Homo sapiens: one gene and its partner. The protein of the gene in region 2 interacts with the protein of the main gene of each other region in a biochemical or structural test. Each region holds a gene or a part of one and is shown on either strand. Other genes may lie near its edges.

Evidence for each region.
Region 1: the proteins of MAP7D3 (region 2) and TUBB3 form a complex in vitro, tested with the Homo sapiens proteins (one study listed by BioGRID).

The regions. Positions count from the first base shown.
Region 1 is NC_000016.10:89,929,842-89,933,341, forward strand, and holds part of TUBB3 (tubulin beta-3 chain), read left to right. Parts: intron 1-2,729; coding exon 2,730-2,838; intron 2,839-3,500. UniProt on the Homo sapiens protein: Tubulin is the major constituent of microtubules, protein filaments consisting of alpha- and beta-tubulin heterodimers. Microtubules grow by the addition of GTP-tubulin dimers to the microtubule end, where a stabilizing cap forms.
Region 2 is NC_000023.11:136,244,901-136,248,400, reverse strand, and holds part of MAP7D3 (MAP7 domain-containing protein 3), read left to right. Parts: intron 1-2,059; coding exon 2,060-2,158; intron 2,159-2,252; coding exon 2,253-2,336; intron 2,337-3,500. UniProt on the Homo sapiens protein: Promotes the assembly and stability of microtubules.

The DNA of each region.
Region 1 (3,500 bases), on a different chromosome or scaffold from region 2:
AGGTGCTCGCCACCACGCCTGGCTAATTTTTGTATTTTTAGTAGAGACAGGGTTTTGCCATGTTGGCCAGGCTGGTCTTGAACTCCTGACCTCAGATGATCCACTGCCTCAGCCTCCCAAAGTACTGGGATTACAGGCGTGAGCCACCGTGCCTGGCACAAGCAGTTTTCTCCCCTTCCTTCCTTCCTTCCTTCCTTCCTTCCTTCCTTCCTTCCTTCCTCTCTCTCTCTCTTTCCTTTCTTTCTTCCTTCATTCCTTCCTTCCTTCCTTCCTTCCTTTCTTTCTGACAGTCTCGCACTATTGCCCAGGCTGGAGTGCAGTGGCGCGATCTCGACTCACCACAACCTCTGCCTCCTGGGTTCAAGCAATTCTCCTGCCTCAGCCTCTCGAGTAGCTGGGAGTACAGGTGCGCGCCACCATGCCTGGCTAATTTTTGTATTTTTGGGAGAGATGGAGTTTCACTATGTTGGCCAGGCTGGTCTCGAACTCCTGACCTCGTGACCCACCCGCCTCTGCCTCCCAAAGTGCAGGGATTATGGGGGTGAGCCACCGTGCCCAGCTATGAGTGGTTTTGTTTCTATTTATTTATTATTATTCTATGAGACAGAGTCTCACTCTGTCGCCCACGCTGGAGTACAGTGGTGCAATCTTGGCTTACTGCAACCTCCGTCTCCTGGGTTCAAGCAATTCTTCTGCCTCAGCTTCCGGAGTAGCTGGAACGTGTGAGCCACCACCCCTGGCTAATTTTTGTATTTTTAGTAGAGACAGGCTGGTCTCGAACTCCTGACTTCCGGTGATCTGCCCACCTCAGCCTCCCAAATTGTTGGTATTACAGGCGTGAGCCACCGCACCTGGCCTCTATTTATTTATTTATTTTGAGATGGGGTCTTGATATGAATTCCTAGACTCATGCTTCTCATGCTTGCTACCACCCAGTCCTGCCTCCTGCACAGCAGTTTCCACTAAAGTCACCCCTTTACGAGAGGCATCTTTTTTTTTTTTTTGAGATGGTGTCTCACTCTGTCGCCCAGGCTGGAGTGCAATGGCATGATCTCAGCTCACTGCAAGCTCCACCTCCTGGGTTCAAGTGATTCTCCTGCTTCAGCCTCCCGAGTAGCTGGGACTACAGGCACCCGCCACCATTCCCGGCTAATTTTTTGTATCTTTAGTAGAGACGGGGTTTCACCATGTTAGCCAGGATGGTCTCGATCTCCTGACTTCGTGATCCACCCGCCTCGGCCTCCCAAAGTGTTGGGATTACAGGCATGAGCCACTGTACCTGGCCTACTAGAGGCATCTTAAAACACATCTCCTGTGTCTCCATTCCAAAGCGCATCTTTGTCTACACTCCTGGGGTCCTCCCACGTCAGCCTCCCAAAGTGCTGGGATTACAGTCATGAGCCACTGTGCCCGGCCCCACCAAATTGTTTTCTAACCTGCTTTTTTCTTGAGGAATCTTCTGCAGCACATGACTCACATGTAGAGCCCCTTGTTTCTTGAGGCCTTCATACCCGTCAGCTCATCTAAAAGTCACTCCTGAGGAGTAAGGGCAAGGGGCATTGGGAGAGGTCAGGCAGCCCTGGGAAGCCTCCCAGCGTGTGTCCCAGGAGGCCTGCTGCCTGCAGACACTGCTCCCAGACGCAGCGGCCTCGGCCATCAGAGCGTGTCCCACGATGAGGTGGCAACTTCCCTGAAGGGCTTGCTCTCACCCAGGGGTGTGGTTCTCCGTGTGCACACAGATAGATAGTTCTACGTTTGCCATATACCATTTATATGCCTCACACAGATTAACCCACTTTCATTTCAAAAAGACCTCCTGTCATCGTGCCCATTGTACAGATGAGGACACTGAGACACGGAATCCTAGTGACCTGTGCAAGGTCACACAGCTGGGAAGGGTGAGGGAAGCGTCTGTGAACCCAGCAGGCCCAGCCCCTGAGTCTAGGCTCCGCTCGGCAGCTGTCATGGGAGCAGAGTCCGAGAAGCACTGCAGGCACCTGCTCTAGGGGGAGAGAGGTGGAGGTGGCAGGTAGAGAGAGGACGACCCCTGGGAGCTGAGACGATGCCAGCCTCACACGGACAGGCTGGGTGACCTCAGGCAAGTCGCTTCCCATTTGGGACCCCAAGGACCCTTCTGCAGACCCAGCTGGGGGTCCCCGATGAGACTGGCTCTCAGAGTCCCTGTGAGTCCCGTCAGCTGAGGCCAGTAATGTCCTGGCACCATCACTGGACATGGTTTGCTCTCCCATGGAGGGGCAGGTGTAGCAGCCAAAAGCGATCCTGAGCTCTGGGCCTCTGAACCCTGCTCTGCCAGCTACTGTGGGTGTCTCTACCCGCTCTGTGTCTCAGTTCCCTTTCCTGAAAAGAGGGGATAGTAAAAACTAACCCTCAAGGTGTTTATTACCAATGCCCTTCATGGAGGAATCCGCTGCTCCAGGCCCTTGCCAGCAGCTGCACAGCTGGGCCTGGGGACCTGGGTGTGGGTCTGTTGAACCTTGGCCCACCCTGGGGCTGTGGTCGGCCTGGACGTGTAGGTGTGGAGGTGCATATTTATTATGGCAATTTTCTGACAGGTAACAGAGTGTGGGGCTCTCTTCTGAATGGGGCTCGTGGAGGCCGTGGGTCAAAAGCCCTAATTTTGTAGTGAGGGCTAAAAGGCTTCACAAGGGAAAGGGCCTGGCTGGGGCTATGGGCCGGTGCCGACCCCCCCTCTCCCACTTTGTTTGCAGTTCTGGGAAGTCATCAGTGATGAGCATGGCATCGACCCCAGCGGCAACTACGTGGGCGACTCGGACTTGCAGCTGGAGCGGATCAGCGTCTACTACAACGAGGCCTCTTGTGAGTGCCTGCCCCAGCCTCCCTATCCCAGCCCTGGACTGACCAGGTCTCAGCGTCTGACTGACCAGGTCTCAGCACCTGGACTCACCAGCTCTCAGCATCTCTGTCCTCCCATGGGTTAGGTTGGCTGAGATGCCAGCAGGCGTAACTGGATGTCAGGCATCCAGACGCACAGAACAGACAATAAATCACAGTCACAAAAGTGAGAGCCAAACATATTAGTGCCATGAGGGCCTGTGCGTGTCCAGGGGCACAGACAGGGATGGGGCAGGCCAGAGACTTTGGAGGCCATAAGAGGGCCTAGAGAAGGGGTCACCTGGAGGGCTTAGTCAGGGGCTCTTTAGCAACTGGTGTGAAGTGATTTCCATATCAAAGTGGTGATACACCCACCTGCCCACATGGACATGTGATTTAAAATTTTATTTAATTTAATAGAGACAGTCTCGATATGTTGCCCAGGCTGGTCTCGAACTCCTGGACTCAAGCGATCCACCTGCCTTGGCCTCCCAAAGTGTTGGGAGTGCAGACACGAGCCCCTGCATCTGGTGGACGTCTGACTGAATCCTGCCTGTCCTGCTCCGTCCTGTCCTGCTCCGTCCTTAAACACAGTGAGGCTTAAGGGTGAAGAAAGTTGCTGAAGCTTGCCTTTGGTCCAGGACTCT
Region 2 (3,500 bases):
TTCTGGACATTTTAAATAATTTTTAAACCCTGTCCTTTCTGTTAATGTATTTCTTACCAGTAGGAATTTGGATACAAAGGTCTAAAAATCAGATTTGATACTACTACCACATTAACCTTTATATGATTCGGTTCATTATTCTCACCACAGCTACTTCTAAGGTTATTTCTGTTTAATAAGATTTTTAATTAGCCTGGTAAAAGTATACTTTTTTTGAGACAGGGTTGCCCAGGCTGGAGTGCAGTGGGATGCTAAAGGCTCACTGCAGCCTCAAACTCTTGGGCTCAGCCTCCTGAGTAGCTGAGACTACAGGCATGCACCACCACACCCAGCTAATTTTTGTATTTTTAGAGATGGGAGTTTGCCATGTTGGCCAGGCTGGTTCCAAACTCCTGACCTCAAGTGATCCACTTGCCTTGGCCTCCCAAAGTGCTGGGATTACAGGCATGAGCCACCACTCTGGGCCAAAAATGTAGATTTTGAGGGAAATTATCAGCTAAATAGTGTCAAATACGGACTATCCTTGGGACTTCTAAGCAGGAGAACTGAATGTGTAAAAACAATACTACAAGTACTTTATTGTTTTCTCTGCACTCACATAAAAATGTTGCAAGTGGGTATATAGGAGTGTCTATAGACCAAGAATTTTTGTTAATATACTAGTGCTCAAATTCAGAAAATAATTGTGGTCCATGGAATTGCCAGTACTTAAATTATTAAGGAAGCTGAGAAGAGTCTAATCCTCAAATTAAGCTAGGTCATATATTATCTGGGCTGTTCGGCCTCTGGGGTAAAAAAAAAAAAAAAAAATGGTGATCCTTACGGCAGCAATTGTGATGTCATTTTCAAGATTATGCTGTAAAATAACTCCCTCAGTAGCAATTAACACCTCAGAGTTCATTCATTTTATAAGTCCAAGGACAGCCCCTCTATTCCCTCAGTTACTTTAACTGCCCATCTTCAACTGTTACATTTTTCTCAATACATAGAAACCAGACTTGTATGCAGCATCACAGGGGCTTACTTCCTGTGCTTTTCTACAAAAGAAGAACAGAGTTAGTTTTCAGTGTTATTTTCAATACTCTTTCTGAAGATGCTCAGTATTGTGGGACATTTTAGATATAGCCATGTGTGGAATTAAAGGGTTCAGGGATTCCCCTATAATAACTCATGTGTGTCATCCTGGAATTTTAGTTTTCTTACTTTTCCTCATACTGTGCTTTCCTAATCTTACACTTCACCCTTATTGAAGTTTATCACTTTTCTGCCTGTTTACACGTTTGTTTGCACCTTGTATAATTTATATTTGTTTGCTTGACATCTACCTAGAATGATACCATCTCATTGGAGATTACTTCTTCTAAAAGAATATTTATTTCTCCACCTTCAATATGCATCAGAATAGAGCTCAACAATTGTAGATGCCTGGGCCCCACAGCCAGAGACTGGTGATGGGGAGCGGGCAGGCAGGCATTGCTGATTTTCTAAAAGTGAGTTAGGTGATTCCAGTGTGCAACCAGGATAGAAAGCCCCTAATTTAGGTAATTTATAAATGTACTCCTTAACATTGGTTGGGCCTGATCTTTCACTGAGTATTTCACTGTTAACACTTTGCTTCCCAATTCAGATCCATAAATTCTTAACCTGTTATCTTCTGAATTCCCAATTTATGGTGAAACTTAATTTTCCCAATTCCTCGCCAGCTCAGTATTTCTAACACTTGGTGTAATGTTTTGTTTGAGACATTTTTAAAACCTATTAATCATTGGCTCCTACTCATCCACAAACTTATGCTGCCACCGCCACTAACAACTCAATTATCTTTATGTCTACAAATACCCTGGCCCATCATAGTAAACACTTTAAATTCTTTGTTAAAGTGTTGTTGAAGATCATAGGTGTTCAATATATCTTTGTTGTTGACCCAGATGAAATCAGTCATGATTTATAGAAGTGATCCTATCCTTTATCATCAAATACAATTGGCCGTGGTTTGCTGACTCCTGTGTTAGCTATCCGTATTCTTAACATCTAATCCTTTTATCTCCCTGTATTTTAGTTGCTGCAGCAAACGAGATTGCTAAGGAAAGGAGGAAGCAAGATGTGGTTAATCGTGTTGCAACCCATTCCTCAAATATAAGATCGACATTTAAACCAGGTATAATTTCTCTGATGCTTTGATAGATGTCAAAGTGTCATATCTTTAAAATTTGATATCCTATTAATATCTAACTATATTCTTTTTTTTTTAGTAATCGATGGATCCATGCTTAAAAATGACATAAAACAAAGATTAGCAAGAGAGCGCAGAGAGGAGAAAAGGAGACAGCAAGACGGTATATTTTAGACCTTTTTTCAAAAATCAAAATGAATTGTGTTATATATTGCAAAGTGTTTTTAACTTATTCCTCCTAATTTGTTTATATGATAGAGTATAATTTTTATATTATGTATTATTTTGGATTAAATCCTTTTACTAAATCAGGCAAGAAGGCCCATGAAAATTCTTTGATTAAATTGTTTAATTTTTGAAGGAGTAGTTTATCTTAGCTTTGATTTTCTGAAAACTAAGGTCTGGAAATTTCTTCAATATTTGTAAAAACAATCAGAATGGGATTTCAGTAAAAGTGATTCTTTTTTTTTTGTTTTGTTTTGAGGCGGAGTCTTACTCTGTCACCCAAGCTGGAGTTCAGTGGCGCGATCTCAGCTCACTGCAGCCTCCGCCTCCCGGGTTCATGCCATTCTCCTGCCTCAGCCTCCCGAGTAACTGGGACTACAGTCACCCGCCACCACACCCGGCTAATTTTTTGTATTTTTGGTAGAGACGGGGTTTCATCGTGTTAGCCCGGGTGGTCTTGATCTCCTGACCTCGTGATCCACCCACCTCGGCCTTCCAAAGTGCTGGGATTACAGGCGTGAGCCACCGCGCCTGGCCAGTAAAAGTTATTCTAAAAATGAAAATAAATTGCCAATAATCCTAACATAGATAAGATGAAAAGCATGTTACCAAGTTGTAAAAAGATTATCCTTTTAGATCCTAATTTATACAGAGTCACACTTCAGAAGCATTTAGTGAGGGAAAATTTGAATATAGGAAAAATTTTGCTCTCCTGTAATATGGTATATGGTTAAGTCCATTAATGTAAAACTGGCATGTTTAATATGGTCTGTATAGATGAGGACTTTGAAAGAAGTTTCCTAGTAGAAGGGAACAAAACATGTATCCTGGCCATGCAGTTTTTAATAATTAGTATTTTAATGTACAGCATATTAATATGGTAGGGTTTGACTTTAGCTCAAATCAGCAGAAATATCACATGAAAGAAAATATTTTTTCTTAATTTGGAATTGTAGTTTGGACAGGATGAGAGTCATTTGGCACAGACAATCCAGTTCTCCAGAGTTAAATGAATACTCAGTGAAAATGGTTCTGCAGTGGCTACCTCTGTTCACTTTTATAATAAATCTTTAGTTACTAGCACAGGTTGTGTTATTTTAAG